7 linked regions of the Homo sapiens genome follow. The protein of the gene in region 6 interacts with the protein of the main gene of each other region in a biochemical or structural test. Each region holds a gene or a part of one and is shown on either strand. Other genes may lie near its edges. The genes, in order: MPP1, SHANK2, HTRA3, PDLIM4, SIPA1L3, DGKK and CYTIP.

What was found.
Region 1: the proteins of DGKK (region 6) and MPP1 interact in a test that uses a peptide from one of them, tested with the Homo sapiens proteins (one large-scale study listed by IntAct).
Region 2: the proteins of DGKK (region 6) and SHANK2 interact in a test that uses a peptide from one of them, tested with the Homo sapiens proteins (one large-scale study listed by IntAct).
Region 3: the proteins of DGKK (region 6) and HTRA3 interact in a test that uses a peptide from one of them, tested with the Homo sapiens proteins (one large-scale study listed by IntAct).
Region 4: the proteins of DGKK (region 6) and PDLIM4 interact in a test that uses a peptide from one of them, tested with the Homo sapiens proteins (one large-scale study listed by IntAct).
Region 5: the proteins of DGKK (region 6) and SIPA1L3 interact in a test that uses a peptide from one of them, tested with the Homo sapiens proteins (one large-scale study listed by IntAct).
Region 7: the proteins of DGKK (region 6) and CYTIP interact in a test that uses a peptide from one of them, tested with the Homo sapiens proteins (one large-scale study listed by IntAct).

The regions. Positions count from the first base shown.
Region 1 is NC_000023.11:154,795,486-154,798,985, forward strand, and holds part of MPP1 (55 kDa erythrocyte membrane protein), read right to left. Parts: intron 1-3,500. UniProt on the Homo sapiens protein: Essential regulator of neutrophil polarity. Regulates neutrophil polarization by regulating AKT1 phosphorylation through a mechanism that is independent of PIK3CG activity.
Region 2 is NC_000011.10:70,467,354-70,469,965, forward strand, and holds the end of SHANK2 (SH3 and multiple ankyrin repeat domains protein 2), read right to left. Parts: 3' UTR 501-2,612; downstream 1-500. UniProt on the Homo sapiens protein: Seems to be an adapter protein in the postsynaptic density (PSD) of excitatory synapses that interconnects receptors of the postsynaptic membrane including NMDA-type and metabotropic glutamate receptors, and the actin-based cytoskeleton.
Region 3 is NC_000004.12:8,272,754-8,276,253, reverse strand, and holds part of HTRA3 (serine protease HTRA3 isoform 1 precursor), read right to left. Parts: intron 1-3,500. UniProt on the Homo sapiens protein: Serine protease that cleaves beta-casein/CSN2 as well as several extracellular matrix (ECM) proteoglycans such as decorin/DCN, biglycan/BGN and fibronectin/FN1.
Region 4 is NC_000005.10:132,256,327-132,260,495, forward strand, and holds the start of PDLIM4 (PDZ and LIM domain protein 4), read left to right. Parts: upstream 1-1,369; 5' UTR 1,370-1,408; coding exon 1,409-1,501; intron 1,502-4,169.
Region 5 is NC_000019.10:37,913,708-37,917,207, reverse strand, and holds part of SIPA1L3 (signal-induced proliferation-associated 1-like protein 3), read right to left. Parts: intron 1-3,500. UniProt on the Homo sapiens protein: Plays a critical role in epithelial cell morphogenesis, polarity, adhesion and cytoskeletal organization in the lens.
Region 6 is NC_000023.11:50,460,826-50,464,325, forward strand, and holds part of DGKK (diacylglycerol kinase kappa), read right to left. Parts: intron 1-3,500. UniProt on the Homo sapiens protein: Diacylglycerol kinase that converts diacylglycerol/DAG into phosphatidic acid/phosphatidate/PA and regulates the respective levels of these two bioactive lipids.
Region 7 is NC_000002.12:157,430,590-157,434,089, reverse strand, and holds part of CYTIP (cytohesin-interacting protein), read left to right. Parts: intron 1-3,127; coding exon 3,128-3,230; intron 3,231-3,437; coding exon 3,438-3,500. UniProt on the Homo sapiens protein: By its binding to cytohesin-1 (CYTH1), it modifies activation of ARFs by CYTH1 and its precise function may be to sequester CYTH1 in the cytoplasm.

The sequences.
Region 1 (3,500 bases), about 100 Mb from region 6:
CAGGTTCAGTGGCTCACACCTGTAATCCCAGCACTTTGGGAGGCTGAGGTGGGAGGATCACCTGAGGTCAGGGGTTCGAGACCAGCCTAGGCAACATAGTAAAACCTCGTCTCTACAAAAAATAAAAAAATTAGCCGGGCATGGTGGCGTGCACCTGTAATCCTAGCTACTCGGGAAGCTGAGGCAGAAGGATTGCTTGAGCCCGGGAGGTCAAGGCTGCAGTGAGTTGTGATTACACCACTGCACTCTAGCCTGGGTGACAGAGTGAGACCCTGTCTCAAAAAATAAAATAAATGAAAATACATAAACTATGTCTGGAAGGAGACATAAGAAACAGTGGTTGCTTCTAGGGAGAGGAACTGGGTGGCTATAAGATGGGGTGAGAAGGAAATTGTTTTCACTGTGTATCAAGTTATACCTTTTAAATTATGTATTATGTGCTTGTGTTACTTTAATAAAATAAATTAGTAAAAGAATTTTCCAAAGTGATTGGGACTCAGGTTCAAGTACTTGTGTGGATCTTGTCCTGCCTCAACCTTGACCCTGTTTAAGTAAGAGTAAACGGGAGGAGGGAAATAGAAACCCACAAAAAGTCATCAGGGTTGAAGGATTTCTTTCTCTTTGTTTTTTTTCCTTTTCTTTTCTTTTCTTTTTTCTTTTTTTGAGAAAGAGTCTCACTCTGTCACCCAGTCTAGAGTGCAGTGGCGTGATCTCGGCTCACTGCAACCTCCGCCTCCTGGGTTCAAGCGATTCTCCTGCCTCAGCCTCCCGAGTAGCTGGGATTACAGGCAAGCGCCACCACACCTGGCTAATTTTTGTATTTTTAGTAGAGACGGGGTTTTACCATGTTGGCCAGACTGGTCTGGAACTCCTGACCGCAAGTGATCCACCTGCCTCGGCCTCCCAAATCTGCTGGGATTACAGGCATGAGCCACCATGCCCGGCCAAGATTTCAATAGCTTTCCAGAAGACAGAAAGCAGATGGAGGAATGACCAAGGAGAGTTGAGACAGCTAGAGCCTAGAATGTGCATACAGGAGGCACCAGCCAAAGAGGCTGGGAAGATTAGTTTAGTTGAGCATCTTGCCATCCCAAACAAGATCAGGGATATGTAAGTGAGAAGTGGGATGTTGGATTGGCAACCAGTTATAATAATCTAAAAACCACTTATTGATTTTTACTTTTTAGAACTCACTTAGAAACAAATCATGAAACAAATAACAGACTGTAAATATCAGCACCATGACAATATTAAGGTACACATGTCCATGATAGGAAGTTGGCAGGTAAAAAGGGGAGAAAAATCGAAAGGAAGAGGCCTGTAATCTTGTTCTGTTACAAAGTGGGGAGTCAAGAAGTAGGATCTGCATTGGTTGGACAATAAATGAAGGAGTGAATGCATTACATAAAGTTCCAAGCCAGGTGTGGTGGCATGTGCCTGTAGTCCTAGCTACTCGTGAGGCTGAGGCAGGAGGATCATTTGAGCCCAGGAGGTCAAGGCTGCAGTGAGCTATGATAGCACCACTGTACTCTAGCCTGGGCAACAGAGCGAGACTCTATCTCTGGAAAAAGAAAAGAAAAAATCTCCAAAGCAGAAGTTGCAAACTGTTTTATTTCGACCACATGTCTCTGTTTTGTTTAGTAAAAATCAGGGGACTCCAACTTCTTTTTAAAGTATCAGAAGATCTGGCATCGCTCTCCAGGTGGCCCCAGCTCTCACATTCCTTACTGATGCCTCAGCCAGAAGCCAGTGTTGGCTACCGATCACCCTATATCTGGGGTGTTATTTTTCTCATACACGAGTGCTTTCACTCACTTGGTCCATGTAGGTTACACTAAAAGCACGTATACATGATGGAAAGGTACAGACCCATGAAAAGCTAAAATAATTTTGAAAAACAAGAGAGTAGGAAGACTCAGTCTGCACAGTTTCAAAACTTACTGTAGTATAGTCTCAGTAAAGACTATGTGGTATAGACATGCAGATCAAGGGAACAGGATAGGGAACCCAGAAACAGACCCACAGAGATATGCCCAGTTGATTTTTAACAAAGATGCAAAAGCAACTCAATGGTGCTGCAGCAATTGGAAACTCATCACCAAAAAGGGAAATGCTGACCTGAACCTTACCTTCTAAAATGGATATGGACTTACATGTAAAGTGCAAAACTAGAAAATATATTTGAAAAAAATAGAAGAAACTTGTCAGGATCTAGAGCTAGGCAAAAAGTTCCTATACATGACATCAAAAGCAGAATCCATTAAAGGAAAAATTGGTAAATTGGACCTCATCAAAATGAAAAACTCTTGTTCTGTGAAAGCCCACATGAAGATTGTGAAAATACAAGCTACAGACCGGGAGAAACATTTACAAACCACATATCCAATAAAAGACTGGTATATAGAATATAAAAAGAGAGTGCTCAATACTCAACAGTAAAAACGAACAATCTAATTAGAAAATGGGCAAAAAACATGAACAGATATTTCACCAAAGAGGATATATAAAGATGGCAAATGAGGATATAAAAAGATATTCAACATCATTAGCCATCAGGGAGAAATGCAAATTAAAACAACAATGATATATCACTACACATCTATCAGAATAGCTGAAATAAAAAAATAGTGACAATACTCATAACTGGTGAAGCTGAGGGAAAATTGGGCATCTCATACATTGCTGGTGGGAATGTAAGTGATATGGCTTCCATAGAAAATAGTTGAACACTTTATTAAAAAACCAAACACACAACTACCATAAAACCCAGGGATGACACTCCTGGATATTCACCTAGAGAAATGGAAATTTATGTTCACTCAAAAGCCTGTACATGAATGCTCATAACAGCTTTATTTATAACAGCCAAAATCTATAAAGAACCAAAATACAGGTGAACAGTTAAAGCGTGGTACATCCATACCATGGAACACTTCTCAGCAATTAAAACAAAAAACACTATTGATACTAAAACAACTTGGGATCCAGCTCAAAGGCATTATCCTGACTGAAAGAAAGCTAATCTATTTCAAAACATCACATACTATATGATTCCACTTATATAACATTCCTAAAATGACAAAATCATAGAGACATTGAACAGAGTAGTGACTGCAAGGAGTTGCGGGGATGGGGTAGGGAGGAAGACAAGTGTGACTATAAAGCGACAGCAGGAGAGAGGCCTTTGTGGGGATGGAACAGTTCTCTATCTTCATTGTGGTGGTGGCTAGAGGAATTTTATTTTATTTTATTTATTTTATTTTTTTGAGACAGACTTTCACTCTTATTGCCCAGGCTGGAGTGCAATGGCACGATCTCGGCTCACCACAACTTCCGCCTCCTGGATTCAAGCGATTCTCCTGCCTCAGCCTCCCGAGTAGCTGAGATTACAGGCATGCACCACCACGCCCGGCTAATTTTGTATTTTTTGTAGAGATGGGGTTTCTCCGCATTGGCCAGGCTGGTCTTGAACTCCCAACCTCAGGTGATCCGCCCGCCTC
Region 2 (2,612 bases), on a different chromosome or scaffold from region 6:
CCCACAGGCAGATGGCAGCCCTAATATGCTCACTACACCGCAGGCTCATCCTCTAGAAAGGCAGAGGCTGCTCAGGGAAGCTTCGCACTTAAAGCAAATGGAGCATGACAGCATTGAGACAAGAATTACACTGATGTACTTCTCACATCGTTTTTTTGTCGAAAGAAAAACACACATGTTGCCACTTTCACTTGTGAAAAATGGAAACAGTTTTCCTGCAATGAGTGGCCTCAATCACTAAAAATGAATTTGTGTATATTTATAACAAAACGTCGAAATGATTGATATTGATGGCTTCGTTAAGCATTACCAATGAGTACCACCGGGGGGCGGCACAGCACAAGGGGAGTAGGTCAGAGAGCCCAGGGCTCCTGTGGTTAAACTTTTCTCCTTTCCATGAAAATCCTCAAACACATTTTGTATTTTAATTAAATGAAAATACTGAAAATGATACAGTAGAGAGCACTTTTAATGGAAAATTAATTGATAACACAATCTTATTTCAATTTACTTTTTATTTTTAACTTAAACGACTGTGTATTTTCCACAGTCTTATGATGAGAAAGGCTCCAGAATCACGTGTAGGTGTCCTCAACATTTCATAGCTCGAACCGTCCTTTCTTTACGTTGTGCATTGATATGGGCTTCTCAGTTCAGAAAACAAGGCACTATAACTATTTTATCAGCTACATTAATACATTGAAGATATATTTATCCTTTCATGAAAGATACAGCATTTGAATACAATATGGTTTTATGCAGATCAGGTTCAAAACACCCAAGGCACACACTTTATTTTTTTTCCTTTTTTTTTTTCTTTTCTGTGTTTATTTGAAGGCTCGTATTAAAATTTCAAAATTGGCATGAACAAAGAGTTCCAGAGTGGAATCAATGGACAGGGATTGTTGTAATTTTGAACATAAAACGGTAAAGACTGTGGAATGTAGAACAAGTTACAGGAACGATAAACAAAATCACCAATACAGCATGGATTAGAAATCAAAGTGATGAGATCTGCGGAAGTCTGAGAAACAAGTTTGGAAATTCTCTGATTCCCCACAAAGCACGGGCAGTCCTGTCTGCATGCAGCTGCTGTGGTCACCCAGCCACTGTGGAATGTTCACCTACTTGCATGGGTTCATGGTTGTCTACAAATACAGAAACACATTCCAGTTCGCCAGTTATTAAAATGCCTCCAATTTCAAGTAAAAGAAAAAATCTTCCAATAATTTTCCTAGTAAGGTAAACGAATATATTCATCTAGGAAAAGTGGTCTGGAAGAAACCATTGGAAGCAAAGTCTAGGGGGGTGCCAAGGTTTGGGAGAAACTATTGGATGGTGAAGCGGGAGAGCTTGAGGGTGAACTACAAAAGATATGAGGACTGGAATTTTTCCTGAACGTGGAAGCATAGAGGCTGCTGCTCAACTGGGGAATGTGCCAAAGTAGAAGAAACTTTAGGAACTAAAGACAACAAGTTTTCACTGGTGAGGCCAAAGAAGAAGTTCAACGTTTAGGTTTAAAATATGCTTCCCTAAAGCGGAGGGATGGCCCATGTCTTCCTGGCTTAGTTCTTTGCCAATAGACACAAATTCTCTCTTGCTCCAAGCCTTAGCATGTGGTTTGCTTGTCAACCAGAGAGGCGGCCCAGTTCTGCCACTCCCTTGGCCTTATGGCTAGAAGACACCCTGCTGGGGTGTGGGGAGACTGGACCCTAAGGGAAGGGTCCGGATCTGGCTGGCCCTCCGCGGCACCGCTGCTTCCACCCAGAACAAAAGGAAAAGCCGAGCCTCAGCTCCACGCCTATAGCAGCGGTCACAGAAGCAGATTTTGACGTTTTGCATAATTCTGAAATAACATGCACGTATCCATTGATAAATTGAGAATAAGGAAATGGAACCAAGGCAGATTAGCTCAGTGACAGGAGCCTGTTTACTCGATGAGAGAGATTTTTCTGGTCAGTTTTAGAGAGGCAGAGCTGGCCACAATGCCTGAGATAATCTACATTAGATTGCAAGTCGGGCAGCTTTTTGTTTAATTCAGACAGTGTTCACTGTTTGTTTGCAATCAGAACCACAACCTTAGTGCAATAGTATATTTATTTTTTTACAGTAATTTTGGTTGCCATACAAGAGATTTAAGGATTGGGAGAAAGTGCAAATTACAGGAGCTTTTTTTTTTTTTTATAAAGTCTAAAAAGAATAAAAGCACAAAAGTAACAGCAACATAGATAATGCGAACACGTGTTGTTACACAAACTATAGTGTGAAACATATTAGTATTTAAAAAACAAAAAAAAATTGTTAATGGGAAAATCAATATTGTGGCCCACACACAAAAAGTCATTGCCAGATCAACTGGATAATGCTTGCTTGTTCAATAACTGAGAAAAAAATTTACCATTTTATTAACTAAAGTATCACAAATAATTCACTTTGTGATATGTAAAGTTCAGCAAATCAACAGTCACATTGAGTAATTTTTATATTATGTGAATTAACTTAAAATGTGCGCAGACACCCTGGAAAAGGTATCTTGGCAGGTATACATAATTTACATTTTGAGAGATTTGGGTTTTGTATACACAATATTACAGAAACTAGGCATGTAAATG
Region 3 (3,500 bases), on a different chromosome or scaffold from region 6:
AAGAGCTTCAGAGACTTCTGGGGCAGAGCTGGGACTCCACCCTGAGCAGCCAGACATGAGGGACAGAACTGGGTCCCAGTCCTGGTGCTCTGCCCATTATGTGCTGGAGCAGGGTAATGCACACAGGTGGGCAGGCTGTACATTGCACAATTCCAGGGAGTCACCTGCTACCCCTGCACTAGACCTGGCTTTCAGCTTGGGGAACATATGGACGTGTCCTCGCCATATCTTTGCTGCACCAAGGACAGCGGTCTATGATTTTAAACCCTGTCCCACCCATTAGTCCACAAACACCCTCATCAAAACCAAACAAGGCAGACACTTCGAGCTGCTAGGGGCCTGCCTGGTATTCAGAGCACTGGCTGGGGAACCAGGGGACCTGGGCTCAGGGCAGAACCATCCATCCCTACCTGAGTGACCGAGGGCAGCTTCCTACAGCTCCCTGAACCCTTTCTCATACAGGACCAGGACATCAATACCCCAATGATGTGTTGAAGGCTTTGTGGGCCTGGAACAGTGCCCAGTGTCACACCGTTCACCCTTGTGAAACCTGGTGGCCTCCCTCCCTCAAAGCAAGCCTGGGCGGAAGGTGTTCAGACCACCTGGCAGGCCCTGGTGAGCCTGTGGGAGGCCAAGGGTGCACAGGCCCCCTTGTACCCACCTCTCCACAACTAGACGCCCCCATCTCCAGAAAGCCCTCCTGATCTAGCCCTCTCTCCACTCTGAAGGTGGTTTCTTCCTCTTCTGGGCTCCATGCATTGTCATTGGTCCCTCACAATGCAGGATGGGGGTTTCACAGGGGTCTGCGGCTGTGGTGATGTGGGCAGGAGGCAGTGGTTGGGGTCACCAAGCCTGCGAGCCTGCCAGGAGGCTATGCTTAGTCCTGAGGCCGTGGGAGCCATGGCCCAGCTTTCGGCAGGGAGGGTCCGGGTCTCGCCAAGTCCCTTCAGGCTGCTGTGTGGGGCTGCATGGGAGGGCAGAGGCCTGTCGGGGGAAGACCACAGGATGGCAGATGGGGTGAGGGTGCATTTGCTAGGCCAAGCCCCGGCAGGAAGGGCAGCTGCACAGCGCCCTGGTCTCAGCTCCAGTCCGGCTGGACTCCTGGCTCCTGGCAGCCTTGGCGAAAGCTCTTGGCCAAGCAGCTCTGCCGGCAGTTCCAAGTCCTCCAGTGCCGCCAGATGCTGTGGCTCAGCACTGCAGCCCCAGCGGGAGTGGGCGGGGCAGGAGGGGAGGCGTCATCTTGCCTGAGTGGTCCCAGATGCTGAACTCCAAGGCATGTGCAGCCCCAGGAAGCTGCTAAGAGGATTACAAATCAAAAGCCAACCCAAGTTCTTCAATAAATACAACCGGGAGATGCCATCAGAACCTGCTTGGGGTTGCACAATAAAAGCCGGTGATTAAATGCCACCTTGTAAACTGCTCTGGGGCTCTACATTCTGAGCGCATGGCAGGCTCCAAGGCCTGTTTATCTGCAGCCAGAGGAGAGGCTGCATGGCCTCAGAGCTCTGGTTACGCGCAAAGGGAAACCCTTCTCCACACAGGCCCTCAGAAACGCATTTATCCCTGCTTTTACCATCCCGTGGATGGACATTTATCCACTCTGTGCAACTGCGATGCCTTAACATGGACCTGAGAAGATGCGAGGGTTCCCCTGAGAAGTGGTGAGCCTCTGTCACTGGAGGGATGCAAGAAGGGCCCAGAGGGTTAGAGGAGATTCACACATCACATGGGCCCTCGTCTCATTTCGTGTCATCTACAGAGGCCACGCACTGGCCCAGGCCCCTGCCCGGCGAGGCTTCGAGCCTGGAGGAGATGGGGATCACGCAGAGAAATTGACCCACAGTCACATCTGTGTGCAGGGCCCACCGGAGACCCTGGGTGTGCTCACCAAGCAATGAAGGATGACCTGGGCACAGTGGCCAGGGCAGGTGGCTCAGGGGCGGTGGGACATCCGGGTGAAGGCAGGATGAGGAACCCACCACGCTAAGGCAAGGGAAGGAAACGCCGGGCAGTGGGCACATTGCGTGCAAAGGCCTCGAGGTGGGAAAGAGACCGGTGAGGCCATGAGGCCAGAGCACAGGGGATGAGGGGACAGTGGGAGACGGCACCGAGGGTGATGCGGGCCAGGTGGCAGGCACAGGGCCCTGTGAGTCAAGGTAAGTGCTGGGGTGCCTTGCAAGGAAGCCTGCAGGTCATGGGCAGGACAGATTGACCAAGGTGATCCTGGCTGCTGTGTGAGAAGTGATGGAAGGGAGGATGGAGGGGGAAGTCAGAGCGCCCCAGGAGATGTTTTGTGGATGAGCTGAGGGGACTCCCGGTGCACAGGAGAATGAGGGGTGGAGGGGAGTGAGAGGCAGAGAGGAATGAGGGGTGGAGAGGAGTAAGGGCCCCCATCCACACAGCTGGGCTGCAATGGGCAGGCCCAGGAAAGGTACCCCCACACCAAGTCCCAAACTGATGAGCCACTGTGACAGTGCAGCAGGCATTGAGGGGAGTGAGGGGAAGAGGGGAATGAGGGGCGGAGGGACGGAGGGGATCGAGGCTCCCCACTGAACATCGTGGTGCTCCTTTCAGTGGGGCTGGGAAGAGTAGAGCCCGAGGCGGCTCAGCAGGCATCTCCACGTGACTCTAACTCAGGAGAGACCCGGGGGCTGGAGATAGGGCCCGAAGTCCCAGCACCTGGGGAGGACTTCATGGCAGATGAGCTTACTGGGGCGGGGGTGCGGGGGGGAGGGTGGCGAGAAGGGACCAAGGAGACCTTCCTGCCTAGAGGGTGGGAGAAGGCGGAGGAGCTGACATGGGGAGGGGAGAGGAGAGCACAAGGAACCTCAGCCCACAGGAGGCTGCCCTCATCAGGCAGGACTTCCTCCCAGAAATGCCCGGCAGCGCCTGGCACACCACTAAGTGTGACCGGCACCCAGCAACTTCTGGCTGGGACCTCGGGAGGGCAGAAGCCGGCTACGCTGCTGGAATACTCCATGGAGGCTGAGCCTGATGGAGCCGGGGGCCCAGGCCTGACCCGACTCCCAGCCTCAGGGGCCCTGCCACCCCTTGCAGAGGAAAAGCCAGGAGGCCCACAGAGCATAGCCTGCAAAGCCAGCCAGACCCAGGCCAGGCCCAGCCGGGTCACTTCCTGACCATGTGACCTCAGAGCAGTCCCTCACCCTTCCTGGCCTCCAGCAGCACATCTGTGGTGCCTGGGAAAGGACCAGGCTTGCCGTGGGAAATGAGACAGGGCTGGGGAGAGGCCGGGCACCCAAGGCCTCCACAGGGAGTGGACTCTGCGTGTCGCCCTGCCGAAAGCTGGCTGTCCAAGGTCCCCGTGCACCGGGCTACAGTGGCAGGGCTGCACACCGCCCACAGTGTGAACGGCGCCCTGGAGATGGCCAGCAGCCTCCCACCTGCACTCTCTGCCTCCCCTCCCCACCAGGCCCCATTTCCCCACCTGGCTCCGTGGGCTCTGGTGGCGACAGGGCTCTCGGGTCCTGTGCAGGTCTCTG
Region 4 (4,169 bases), on a different chromosome or scaffold from region 6:
GAACAGCCCAATGGCTGGTGCTCTAATGGATTCAGACACCGCACCCCCCCCCACACACACACCCCAAATACACTCCCATATAAACACCGCTACCACACACCACTTGTTTCTCTCCCAGCTGAACAGATAGCAGCATCTTGCCTCCTACAGAGGCACCCACATTCTACTCTGAAGGGCCCCTCCCTTCCTTGGACTGCCCTAGGTTTGTGCTTCTCAAGCAGTTCTCCTCTTTGCGGGTTGTCAGAGACCCAGTGGACACATTTCATCCCACCACCTGTGAGGAGCCCAAGAGCAGGGTCCTTATCACAGCTTGACTAAAAGGACACATAAGGTTAAGGATTTGGGCTAAATGAGAGACCTCCACAGAGTCTGGAAAAGTAAAAGGTGTCTCCCTGATGTAGCCAGATAGAAGTGCCGAGAGAACCAGAGGGAGGTTGGTGGTGCCATGGCATCTGCATTGGCTGTTCAAGTACATCCCCGGAGGATAATGGTTGGGAATGGAGAGAAGACCTTGGAGAGAAAAGGGCCCAAAGTGAAGCGCTGCATATATTTCTTCCCTTTACACTGCACAGCCACGACCCCAGCCGCTCCAGCTGCTACTTTCTCAGGAGACCTGGGGAAACAAATCTCCTGGCAAAGGACGAGGGGAGGGGGCTGTGCAGACAGGGAGGTGGCCTGCGAGGAGCCTGCAAGCAGCAAGAGAAGGCCTGAATGTTCTGGGGAAGCAGGGACACCTTGCTTCCAGATACAAGTCAGGGACCACCTCTTCCAGGAAGCCTTACTGGCCTCCACAAACTAGTCTGAGGACCTTTCTGTGTCCACTCCCACGCTCGGCGCTGCCTGCTGTCGTTTTGGGTCTGCGTCCCCGGCCCAGTGCTGCGCAAGCCCCTGGTTCATAGGGTTCTTGGTTCAGAGGGCTCCTCACACGGCAGGATGGGCCGCAGGTGTGCCAGTCGGGCCCATGAGGAGGTATCTGAGCTGGGGCAGCCCCATCCCCCAAGTGGGCCCTCCATCCCTCCTCGGGCTGGAGCACCGCCCCTAAAAGCGACTTCAAAGGGCCGGTGTCGACAGCTGGGTTTGGGTCCGCGGCCTGCAGATCCAAGGCCCGAGCAGGATCCAGGCCGTCGGGGCCGTCCGAACGCGGGGATCTCTGAGAGCTGAGTGGGGGTGCCGGGTTGCCGGCAGCCGGGGCTGAGGGCGGGTCCTCAGAGCCCCCCGAAGTGGGAGGGTCGGGCTGGCCGCGGGGCCAATCCAGGCGCACAGGGAGCGGGGGCGGGGGCTGGGCCGAGTGGGGACAGGGGCGGGCGGGCCGGGGGCGGGCGCGGCGTCCAGGCGGCGGCGGCGGCTGCGGCGGCGGCGGCTCCTCCTCAGAGTCCGGCTCAGGCTCCGGCTGCGGCTCCAGCCCGCGATGCCCCATTCCGTGACCCTGCGCGGGCCTTCGCCCTGGGGCTTCCGCCTGGTGGGCGGCCGGGACTTCAGCGCGCCCCTCACCATCTCACGGGTGAGTCTGGCGGCTGCGTGGCGGCAGGGCGGTCCCATGTCTGAGACCGGGTTCTCGCGGTCCGCCCGGGACCCAGATCCCCTGTGTATCCGAGGCTTGAAGGCGGAGGGTTGGCCTGGGCGCCCCGCATGCTGTAGAGGCGGCTTCCAGGCAGAGGCAGGCAGCCCCAGCCGCCCTCCTCCCACGCTGGGCCTGTCTGCCCGATCCCGCGAAGAATCTCCCAAGAGTTCACGCACCCGCCTCCCCGCTGGCCTCATCTGGGGGAGCCACTGTGGACCCGGGAAGGACCCGCGGAGATGGGCCAGGGGTCTAGACAGCTCTACAGAGGCCCAGAAACTCTTCAGACTCACCCCCTGCCTGAAGATCTGGGGCAAAATGATTTAGAGCCCCCCTTCCCCTATCAGGGGTCCCTGCCGGCAGAGCTTGGTGACCCAGGGAGGTCTGGGGTCCTCGCTGAATCTGAGAAGACAGAGGTCCATCCACTTCCCACTTTGGGCGTGAGTCAGTCTCTCATTCACGACCTCAGTCACCCTAAGGGGAAGTGACCAGGAGGAATTTTGGCTTCCAGGGGAAAGGGAGACTTAACTGTGAGGTTGTGAGACCCCTCCCCACAAGATGACACAAAGCCGGGGGCCAGGACAGCCTCAGGCCCGTTCCTCAAGTTTCCCAGGGCCCTGCCTTGCCCACAGAGAAGGAAAAGGAGCCGGCACAGCCCTGGAGCGTGGCTAGTCTGAGGATAGAGGAGTGGAGGAGGTGACTCAGGCCCTGTTCGAGGGGGTGCCTGTCTAGGGGAGACAGGATCCTGGCCCAGCCTCGACATCCTCGTGTCTGGAGGGCCAAAAGAGAGGACTCAGACCCTGCCCTTGGGGGTCCCCAGCCTAAGGGACAGAAGAGGAGAGAACCCAGGCCCTGCCCTTGGCGGCTCTCAGTCTGGAAGGAGCAGAGGAGATAACCTGAAACCATCTGACGGCCATCCCTTGCTCCCACACAGGCTGATCTTGTCTTTGGGGGCCTGTGTCAGAGGCACAGAGAAGCACCTTCCCCCACCCTACTGCCACCTCTTGCCATGGGGGCTGGGCCAAGCCGGCTGGGCTTTAAGAGACTTCTGTCCAGTTCTTGGGAGGGGGTGGGCACCAGGTGGAGCGTGGAATCATGGAATCCCGTTTCTGGGGGCCAGGGTGACAGGCAGGCCCAGCTGTCCTAGGAGGCTTCCCACATCTGCCCTCACTGCCAGGTCCCTGGGGCCGAGTGAGGTGGGCCTTCAACACATCCCAGAGCCTTTCATCTCCTCTTTCCTATAGGATTCCTGCTGTGTGTGTGTGTGTGTGTGTGTGTGTGTGTACGCAAGCCTGTGTCTGCTTGTGTGTGTCATGCTGTGTGTCCGCTGAGGGGGCTGGTGGGGACACTAAGCGGGCTGGCCAGGCACCCTGGGCGTGAGGCCGCTGACAGGCTCAGTGGCGGCGGCTGACGGCTGCAGGCGGCAGGGAGCTGAGACATCTGTTGCCCACGCGGCTGCCTGCCCTCCGAGGAAAGGCCTCCACACGTCACAGCTGCGGCTGCGGCAGCAGCAGCAGCAACAGCCTTGTTTGGAGCTGACTGGGGATGCAGGCCCCAGGCAGGCAGTCTGGGAGAAGGTTTGCCAGGAAGAGCCTCCTTTGTCCCCCAAAGTCACGCGGCAGCAGCTCAGGCCCAAGGAGCCAGGATGGCTGAGGTTGGGTTTGGGTGGGATCTGGGGAGATTTACAGCGCTGGGGAGGCACAGGCCACAGCTTGCCTAGCAGGTACCTCTGGGGCAGGTCTACAGGGACTGAAGATATGTGGGAGTGTCTTCACCAGTGGGGCTCAAGATCCAGCCCCTCCCTTGCTTCCAGGACCTCCCCTACGCGGGACCTGGTAGGGAGGGACAGCCTCACACAGACAGGGAGGAGGCTATCGGCCCGGCAGGGCTGGGGGCTTGCAATCTCAGCCCATGAAGCCTCCAGGAGTCCCAAGAACATCATCCGGGGCTCCTTCCCCACAAGCTATAATGATGGCTGGCCTTGGCCAAGCATCCAGGGTGTGCCAGGCCCTACCCTAATGGGTGTTGGTAACAGCTCCCTCCAGTCCCTGTAGTGAGCACCACCTTATTTATGCCCAGCCTCCTGTGGGGGCTTTACATGCCCTGTTTTTCTCAAATAGTCCTTACAACAGCCTTTAGAAGTAAGGACTCCCTCTGGCCTTACATAGATGGAGACCCAGGCACAGAGAGGCTAATGTAATCAACCTAGAGAAGCAGAGTGGAGACAGGAGGAATCCAGGCAGTCTGCAGTTTGCTGTGACTGTGTAGGACAATGTGGCACCTGGTTCTGACTTGGACTCCCAGCCCACCACATCTAGGCTGGGTGGAGCAGGGGCTGGGAATGCAGCCACTACCGGTAAGGGGCTGATTCATGCCCTCACCGCCCACCTGACTTCACTGTTCCTGTCTCTGTTCCTTCTTTCTGTTTATCCTGTGCTTAGGAGCTAGACGGATCGGCCTGAATTCCACTCTGTCCTGTGACTTCCCGCTTAGAGCCCTCCATGGTTCCCAGCCACCCAGGAGAAATGCCAGCTTCCCACCCGGGTGTACAAGACTCTGCAATATCTGATCCCTGCCTCTTCTCTGACTTCATCTCTCCCACTCTCCCCTC
Region 5 (3,500 bases), on a different chromosome or scaffold from region 6:
GTACCAACTGAGATACGCTGAAAGTGTAAAATACATATTGTATGTCAAACGCTTAATGTGGAAAAAAGGAAGTAAAATAGCTCACTAATAATTTCTATATTGATTACATGTTGAAATGATGTTTTAGATGAAATAAAATATATCATTAAAATTACTTTCCTGCTTCCTTTTACTTTTCAAAATATGGCTACTAGAAAATTTTTAATTACCTATATGAGCCTCATCAGTGACCCACATTTTTTTTTTTTTGAGAAGGAGTCTCACTCTGTTGCCCAGGCTGGAGTGCAGTGGTGCAATCTTGGCTCACTGCAACTGTCACCTCCAGGGTTCAAGTGATTCTCTGCCTCCGTCTCCCGAGTAGTTGGGATTACAGGCACATGCCACCAGACTCAGCTAATTTTTGTATTTTAAGTAGAGATGGGATTTCACCATGTTGGCTAGGCTGGTCTCGAACTCCTGAACTCAAGTGATCCACCCGCGTCAGCCTCCCAAAGTGCTGGGATTACAGGCATGAGTCACCGCGCTCGGCCCCACGTTATATTTCTAACAGACAGCACTGTTGTGGGCTTTTGAGAACCAGTGTCTTATTCAACTTTATACTGTCAGTGTCAAGCATGGACCCTGACACACAGGGTAGGTGAAGAAATGTTTCACAGATGGACAGATGAAAGATGCTCTCCATACTTTCAGTCTTTTTTTTTTTTTTTTTTTTTTAGACACAGAGTGGTGTGATCATAGCTCACTGTATCCTTGATCTCCTGGGCTCAAGGTGTGGTAGTGCCTGGGCTCAAGTGATCCTCTCACCTCAGCCTCCTGAGTAGCTGGGATTATAGGTGCACATCACCAAGCCTGGCTAATTTAAAAATTTTTTGCAGAGATGAGGTCAGATGCGGTGGCTCACGTCTGTAATCCCAGCACTTTGGGAGGCTGAGGCGGGAAGACCACCTGAGGTCAGGAGTTTGAGACCAGCCTGGCCAACATGGTAAAACCCCATCTCTACTAAAAATATAAAAATTAGCCGGGTGTGGTGGTGGGCGCCTGTAATCCCAGCTACTGTGGAGGCTAAGGCAGGACAGTCATTTGAACCCAGGAGGCAGAGGTTGCAGTGAGCTGTGATCATACCACTATACTCCAGCCTGGGCAACAGAGTGAGAACTGTCTCAAAAACAAAAACTTTTTTTTTTTTTGCAGAGTTGGGGTCTATGTTGCCCAGACTGGTCTTGAACTTCTGGTCTGAAGTAATCCTCCCACCTCGGCCTCCCAAAGTGCTGGGATTACAAGCCTGAGCCACCATGCCCACCCAATATTTTTAGTCTTAAAAGCACCCACTACTGTCCTCACATCTAACCAGGGCTACCCTTCATTCAAAATACGCCCACGCTACAGCAAATCAAAGTGCACACAGGTCATGATGCCGGAGCAGGGACCTGGGGCCCTTACAGGTCCAAGAATCATTGTCTTAGTTGATGGGCTATAGTATGATACTTTAACAGCCCACATGGCTAGTGTGCTTAAAACACCATTTCCAGCTGGGTGCATGGCTCACATCTGTAATCTCAACACTTTGGGAGGCTGAGGCCGTCGGATCACTTGAGGTGAGGAGTTGGAGACCAGCCTGGCCAAGATGGTGAAACCCCATCTCTACTAAAAATACAAAAATTAGCTGGGAGTGGCGGTGGGCGCCTGTAACTCCAGGTACTCAGGAGGCTGAGGCAGGAGAATCGCTTGAACCCAGGAAGCGGAGGTTGCAGTGAGCCCAGATCACACCACTGCACTCCAGCGTGGGCAACAGAGCGAGCCTCTGACTCAAAAAAAACAAAAACAAACAAACAAAAAAAAACACCTTTTCCAGCCAAGTCCCAAGTCCCCTTGCAAAGCTCACCCAAAGGAGACACCCTGCTCCCTCTCCTTGGACACTACACTTTGTTTCATGCTAACCTGTGCCTGGTATGGCAACCAAGCAGTCAACCTTGTTTTACTTGACAGGCTCTGCTGGAGGGTCTTTAGTTTTGAAACCACCACCAAACCATCCCTATCGTGTCTCATTGAGAGCAAAAATGATGCCACAACATCCCAGGCGGCCCCTGCTGCCACATCAATTAGGTACTAAATATAGTCTAAAGTGCTTTGCATGTCAAACAACAAGGAAAGGAAATGCTGTGTCCACTTCCTCAATTTGCCTCTGCCTGGTAAGGAGGGCCCTGGAAGAGTTTAGAATGCAGGTGAAGAGCATGGAGGGTGGAATCAGTTTCCTCATCTGTAAAATGAGTTTGATCAAGTTAATTACTTCACTGGACTACTGTCAGGATTAACTGAGGAATGTGTGAAATGCTTAGAAAAGCATCTAGCACAGAGTAAGCACCAGGTAAGCTGCTATCATTATTATTATTTTATAAAAAAGTAGGCCAGGTATGGTGGCTCGTGCCTGTAATCTTAGCACTTTGGAAGACTGAGGGTGGAGGATCACCTGAGCCCAGAAGTTCAAGATCAGCCTGGGCAAAACAGGTCTCTACAAAAAATAGAAAAAATGTGGCCGGCTGCAGTGGCTCACACCTGTAATCCCAGCACTTTGGGAGGCTGAAGCAGGCAGATCACCTGAGGTCAGGCGTTTGAGACCACCCTGGCCAACATGGTGTAACCTGTCTCCTCTATTAAAAGTACCAAAAAAAAATTAGCCAGGTGTGGTGGCACATTCCTGTAATCCCAGCTCCTTGGGAGGCTGAGGCAGGAGGATCACTTGAGCCCAGGAAGCAGAGGTTGCAATGAGCTGAGATCATGCCACTGCACTCCAGCCTGGGCGACAGAGCAGACCCTGCCACAAAAAAAAAAAAAATTAAAGTAGTATCAACTTGAAAACTAGGAATTAACTCTTCTCCAGTCAAACTGATACTCTTTGTAGCAAACTCACTCCCACCTCCGGGCCTTAACACTTGCTGTTCCCTCTACCTGGAATGTTCTTTCTTCAACTTTCGGCATAGCCAGTGCCACTGCTCATTAAGGTATCAGTTCACATGACTCCTCAAAGAGGCCTGGGAGGCCTTCCCTGACCATCAAAGCTAAGGTAACCACCGCCATCTTGCCCCATCAGCCATTTGCTCTCCACTTACCCTGTTAAATTTTCTCCATCACAGTTAAAACTATCTGAAGAGGCAGGATCAGGATTTTTTTTTTTTTTTTTTTTTTGAGACGGCCTCTCACTCTGCCGCCCAGGCTGGAGTGCAGTGGTGCAATCTAGGCTCACTGTAAACTCCGCCTCCTCCTGCCTCCTAGGTTCACGTGATTCTCCTGCCTCAGCCTCCCGAGTAACTGGGACTACAGGCGCCTGTCACCACACCTGGCTAATTTTTGTATTTTTAGTAGAGACGGGGTTTCACCTTGTTAGCCAGGATGGTCTCGATCTCCTGACCTCGTGATCTGCCCGCCTCAGCCTCCCAAAGTGCTGTGATCACAGGCGTGAGCCGCTGTGCCCAGCCAGGATTTTTTTTAATTAAAAAAAAAAA
Region 6 (3,500 bases):
CTTCTGGGTATGGCATACCCAGTTTAGCATAATGCTGTAACTTCTTGTTAAAGAGACAAAGCCATCACTAATTTTTTTTTTTTTTGGCATATAGTTAAAAGTGACTCAGAAATTTAGATTTTTTCCCTTTGGGAATTTAACAGTGGGAAGATAAGGTTGGTTTTGTTCTGGATCTCCTTCTCCAAGGCCAAGTCACAAAAGCTAACTGGACAAATAAAATCTAAGTGTCCAAAAAAGTGCAGTAAGTAAATGTGAGATCAAACTGCATTTGTATATGGGAGCAACTGCAACAATTGTGTCTACATAAAATCTATATACTTACTGCTTCACACAGCAAATATGCCCCTGAATGGTTGTGATTCAAGCATATGTTTAACAATCAGATCAGACAGGAGTTTGACTAGATGAACTTTAAGCTAAAATGAACAAGTGTTTCCTAAATCCAAGGTAGAATAATGAACACGATCTAATAATTAAGCGTGTGGGGCTGTGACTGGGGCAGGGTGAAGCCCGAGACACAATTGTGCATTCCCCAAAGTCTTACTACAGAAGACTATAAGCAAATATTCAGAGAAAATAAATGAAAAATATAGCAAAATATTAACAGTGATTATCTCTGAGTGGTGGGGTACTAGATGATTTTTATTTACTTTTTAGAAGCTTTCTTGATTTTCCACATTCTCTGAAATTAGCATGCATTCCTTTATTTTATTACATTGAATTTTAGTTTAAGTAGAGGAATGCTGAGAGAACTGACTATTAATAGTGAATACCTTGGCAAAGCATCTGGTAAAACAAATAACCACCATCTGCATATTTGTTTTGGTAATTGAGTCTCTCATTTACCAGTTTTGCTTAAAGGTAGTCTCATCCATGTGGTTTTGTTCACTGTAGAATCCTCAGTGGTTAGCACAATGTTAAACACATAGCACATAGGGAGCAGGTATCAGTTTACGTTTTAAAGAAATAAATGAATTTTAAAATTTGGAAAACATTAATTGAGTCTCTCTGCTTATAAATATGATTTGCAAATTTTATGGATTTGTGAAAATCAAGCCCTTTTATCGCCCTGCAGGAACAGACATCAAAGCCAGCACATAATGAAACATAATGGAGGATGGATCACCTCCATTACTGAGTTGGCGAAGGGTCCTTCCCTGTTAGGTAGGGGTGTCTGACTAATTGGTAGTTAATAGCAAGAGTGTCACTGCTTTTGAGTTTATCATCAACTCTTAATTCTCTGTAGTGTTAGATGGGAACAATGACGCAGCGAATTCCCAAATCATTTGTTCGGTTTGGAAAAGAGGTATGATTTTTCCCCAGAAGGTTTGCCTCCTAATTCTTTTTCTTTTGGACAGTGCCTTTCTTGGGAGTGTTGCCTACCTGGATGATGGGGAAGGTAACCAGAAATAGACTGGGGCAGCGGGAAGCCAGCCTGGGATTAAAATGTATCATCCTTTAGCCTTAGTGCTGAATGTAAAGTTCACTGGTGCCATTTGAGAGGGATAGTACCTTTTCTTTGTACAACACTTCAGATCTGTGGAGCCTGTGGGAGAAGTGAGTGCTTTTTTTTTTTTTTTTTTTTTGAGGCTTTTTTTCTGTCTTTGCTTTTTCTTTTAAAAAATCTCAGGAAGAAAGTTCAATGGTGTTGGAGGGATTATAGCCAACTTGCCTTAGATTAGGAGGATTTCTTCCCTTTTCCTCAAATATTTTTTTTCTCCTCTTGGATGTGGAGAGGAATAAAGTCCATTGATTTTAGTAAAGTTGAAGGTATCTCCTCTTACAATGGAAGATTTTTTTCTTTAAAAATCTCCAGGGGAAAAGATTCATTGCTTTTGGTGGAGGTGGGGGAGCATCTCTCTTTAGGTCTGGAGGATTTCCATTAAAAAATAGGTTTTGTGGAGAGGACCTACAAGGGCAACTTGTTTTAATGAAGCTGGGGAGCCCTCCCTAGTAGGATTTTTCTTTCTTTCCTTTTCTTTAAAAGAAACAGTTTATTGGGAAAAATTAGAATGGGAGACATCTCTCCTGGAAAGATTTTCTTTTCCTTTCCTTGCTTTTTTTTTTTTTTTTTTTTTTTTTTTTTTTTTTAATGAAACAGTGAAGGCTGAAAGATACATAAGGTCCCTGGGATAGGGTGAGATTGGGTACATACCCACCACCCCCCCCACACGCACATTCCCCACCTTGAAGAAGCTTGAGAAAGAGATTTTGTGTGTGTGTGGTTTTTTTTTCCTTATTGTGGGGGATGGAGAGGGTAGTCATCAGGAATAATACGCAATGTCTGCAGTAAGGTGTTGGTGCATTTTCCTGGAGAGAATTTCTTTCTTTGATCCTTTAAAAAATAATCCCTTTGTTAATTTTCTTCTTCCTCTTTCCCACCCCTCCTTCTCTGCCACCTTCACTCTATCCTACCTAGTCCTTTTCCCCTTCCCTTCACATTTCTCCCCCCATCCTCCTTCCTCTCTCCCTCTCCTTTCCTCCGTCTCCCCTTTCTTTTTCCCTCTCCTCCCTTCTCTCCCCCTCTTTCTTTTTCCCTCTCCACCTCTCCCTTTGTCTCTCTCTCTGGCTCCCTCCCTTCCTCTGTCTCTCTCCCTCTTTTTTCCTCTCCCTATCTCAGTCTCTCCCTACCTGCTCCTACCTTCCTCTCCTCTCTACCTGTCCGGCTTTCCCCCTCCCTCCCTTCTCCCCTCCTCCCTCTCTTCCTCTCTCTGTTTCTCTCCCTCCTTCTCCCTTCTCTTCCTTCTTTCTCCCTCTCTCCTTCTCCCCTCCTCCCTCCCTTCCTCTCTCTGTTTCTCTCTCTCCTTCTCCCTTCTCTTCCTTCTTTCTCCCTCTCTCCTTCTCTTTGTTTCTTTTTTGTTTTCAGAAAAATATTCAAGGACTTTGGTGAGTTTGGGGGCATCTTCATTCCTTAAGAAAAATATTTCTCTTTAAAATATACTGTTCATGTTCTTCCCTTCCCGCCCCCCATAATTCTAAATGTATTTGCTTGTTTTGAGAAAAAAAGGGGCTTTGTTGAGGCTGAGAATACTTTTGTTTAAGAGGACTTTCTTGGCTTTGTGTTTCTCCCCTACCTATCTTTTCTATTTGTTCTCAAATTACAAAAATTCTATATTAAGAATAAATCTTTTGGTAAATTATATAAATATATTAAATTATCACATGTTCCCTGAAAATATGTACATCTATTATGCATCAGTTAAAAATTAATTAAAAATAAATAAATAAAATAAAAAGAATAAAGTTTTTGAGTGAATTTGAGTCAACTCCCATTAGAAGGATTTTCTTTCATTTTTTCTTCTTTTAAAAAAATCGGTTTTTTTTTTTTTGGTTGTGTTTTGACAGGAAAATTAATGGGTCTTTGTGACATTGAAGTACTTCTTCTCTTTAAGAGGATTCTGTTTTTGTTTCATTAGTAATATCCTCTTCACCAACACATATACCCTTCCATTCTTAATTTTATTTTAAATCTTAAAAAAAATTGTATTTTAAGAATAAGG
Region 7 (3,500 bases), on a different chromosome or scaffold from region 6:
CAGCTAGGTCTTAGATAAGAGAGTGAAATACATTTTACAGATGTGTACTTGATATATTTGCATGTGTTTTGTATAATCATATTGTTATACTGTGTATCAGATTTTAAGTATTTACTTTGGCATTCAAGAGACACTCGAAAGACTATACATCTGTGTATATAGAATGCATATATTCATGGATAGCTCCTGGTATGTTTTGCAACTAGAGTTCATATTGTACATAATGAGCAATTTGTAGCTTTTTTTCCTAATGACAATGCTTTATAATTGTTATTTGAAACACTTGAGAACATTTGGCTCTACTTGCAGATTGCCTCATGCTGTAGGAAATTTTTAAGTCTTTATAAGTTTCAGCATAATTGCCTAAGAATTTCATTGCTTATTAGCTGTCTGCTTTTTCATGAGCACATTTGTAAAATGGGTGAGGTAGGTCAAATGAAGTCTAACCCAATTAAGTGCAACAGTAGTAGCTTAAGCATTTCTGTTTTTTTTTTCCATAGTACGTTTGCATGTCTTTTGGATGTGTTTTGCATAATCATATTCTTACACTCTATATCAGATTTTAGATCTTAGCTTTACTGCTGCTTTCAGAAAACTCTGGTGTGATATCAGCCCCACAATTGGAAAGTCAGTGTTTATTTTAAGATTAGGAACAGGAAACTGCTAAGAAAAACATGTTTTATGAGTAAAGAAACAAAATGGAACTTTAGCTGCAATGAAGACAGAGAAGGCACTTTGAAAAGAGGATCACTTCTACTTTCCTAACTCCTGTACTTTTAAATTTGGAGGAATCTGTAATTCACCACAGTAACTGGTGAAATCTATAGGTTTTAGAAGCATAGTGCTCCCTCTTACTCCCCGGTCATATGAACTACTCCCTATTCTGTTGTAGAGACACTGCTTTTTGTCACTGCTTCTTTTTAAAGGAAAATTATCCTCAAGGATGTGCAGCAGTGGCTACTGAAAACTGGATAAACGACTACTCACCTTTCTTTATTTTTCTTATACTGCCATAATAATGTCACTACTTTCTTAAGTTTTTCTCCCATACCATAAACACTTATTCTCCGTGGAGCAAGAGTCAAAACTATGTCAGGCCACAACACCACTGAACTTTTGTAGATCAACATGAACTAATGGCACCTCTAAATGGCAGCATGTAGGTGTTATCTCAGTGATGCAGGAACCCACACTCCTGTAAATTCCCTCTGGTATATGCTCTCCATTGTCAAATACACACCATAATCTATTCCCTAGTACTCATCAGATTTGCAGCAGTTAACAAATAGGAGACATGCTTCTGGGAACTTTTTGAAAATCAGATAGAACCTCATGTACCCATATTGTGCATGCAGTGTGAGTACATGTTTGGGATGTGGCCTACTAGAGGAATGACACTTTGGAAGAGACCAGATCCATGGTTCTCCATGGGAGCTAGTTTTATGCTGCTTATCAGAATCGTGCAGCCCAATAGGAATGCAGACTTTGGACTCATGCACACCTGAATTCATATCCTCCTAATGCCTTATGGGGTCCTTAGGAGTTTTAAATGAAATAATACATGCAATGTACCTAGTGATGTGCCTTACCAATAGAAGATCCACAAATGACAGGTGTTAGAATGAATGTCACTGGGCATGAGAAAGGACAATGAGATCTTTGTGTCTCTAAGAAATGCAGGTGATCATTGTGTCACTGATCCCTTAATGGGAGCTAGAAGACTGGGTAAGAGAAAAAAGCATCCAATTAATACTTTCTGTAGCTTTGGGGTTTCTGTTTTTTTCTATTTCTAACTACCATATTTTACACCCAATGTGAACATATATGGAGGTGCCAGCTACATAAATCAACATGTTTCTACTGCACTGTACTTACTTTGATCTCTGGGAATGGAGGGTAGAGTCTCACTGCTAATGAGAATTGTTAGAACAGTGGTTTCCCAAAGGAGTGTCAGTTGTATATTTTATTCATGTACCACATGAACTAGATCAGTCTTTCATCTCCAGAAGGGTCTAGGCTATACTGAGAAGACCCCTGGCAGGAAAGCTGTCAATGAAGTTTCTGACATAGATGGGAACATAGTGCATGATCTTTTAAAGTCCCTTCTACCTTTAAGATATGGGGATTCTAAGTGCCTTATAGATTAGATAGAAGTCCTTTAGAGGTGAACAGACCCAAGTTTCTAGAAGTTGCTTGCATGTGGCTGACTTGTGATGCCTCAGGGATTATTGAATAAGAAAGAATGAACATCAGACATCAATTTTTTCACAAGGAAGTACTACTTTAATGTAGCTTAATTTTAGGAATCAGATGTTTAAAAGACGTACTCTACTCAGAACACTGATTTTGCTTCTAAGTGGAACTAGACTTCATAATTTAAATGTGTGAAAAAAAGAAAATTATATTTGTTATAGGTCATTGGGACACTATATCTAGCAAACATTTATTCAGTGTTTTGGTATAATTAAAAATAAAAAAACCCACCACCACCAAACTACTTGTGCCTAATTGAGGCAAGAGTTGAAGCTTAACTTTTTCTAATTTAGTTGGGTGACTAATGAACCGGTGAGGATTCAGGACAGGCATACCAGAGGGTGCTCAGAAATGAAGGTAATTGAGTCAATTATAGTACTTTTGAATAAATGCAGGGCAGATTGTCATTATGTGCAGAACTCTGATTTAAAATAATCATTGTTGGCATGTCTCCTTGCTGCATGTGTACAATTTCATACTCCTATAATGAGTGTTTTAGCTTGGGAGAACCACTTAGGGATTTTTCTCATTGCACTTGGCCATCGTTGTTTTATCCCATTGGGAAATGAGAAACTCAATTTTTAAAAATAAATCGTGATAGCATCAGGTGATATCTTGGGCTTGAAAATATAAAATCTTGAGCCACTCTCATTTCACTTTCTTTCTCATGACAGATGTCTTTATGAATGGAGTTGGCTACAGATTGTCTGGTAGAATTGCAAAATTGATACCTTGATTTAGTTTATAGTGGAAATCCTTTGTCCTTTGAACTTACCTATTATACTGCTTAATGATAATTGACATCATTTTAAATTTTGGCAAATAGATGTTGAGGTTGTTAAATAGTAACTATATATCATCTTAATTTTTACAGTCTTACAGGCCCCAGAATCAGAATGCCTGCTCCTCGGAAATGTTCACTTTGATATGCAAAATACAGGAGGACAGCCCAGCTCACTGTGCTGGCCTGCAAGCTGGTAACTTAAATTTTTGCTCATGTTAGGAATCATTTAAATGGAAAGAAAATAAAATGTTTTGAGAGTGAAGGTCAGGATGTATTTGTTGCTTTGAGTTTTCTTGGCTCCTTTATGTTTTTAAGACTTGGAGCTGCTTGTTTCATTTGCATGTCAGGAGGGATTATTTAACTAACCAACATAACACTCATTTTTCTTGGCATCTCCCAGGTGATGTCCTTGCAAATATCAATGGTGTGAGCACAGAAGGTTTTACCTACAAACAAGTCGTTG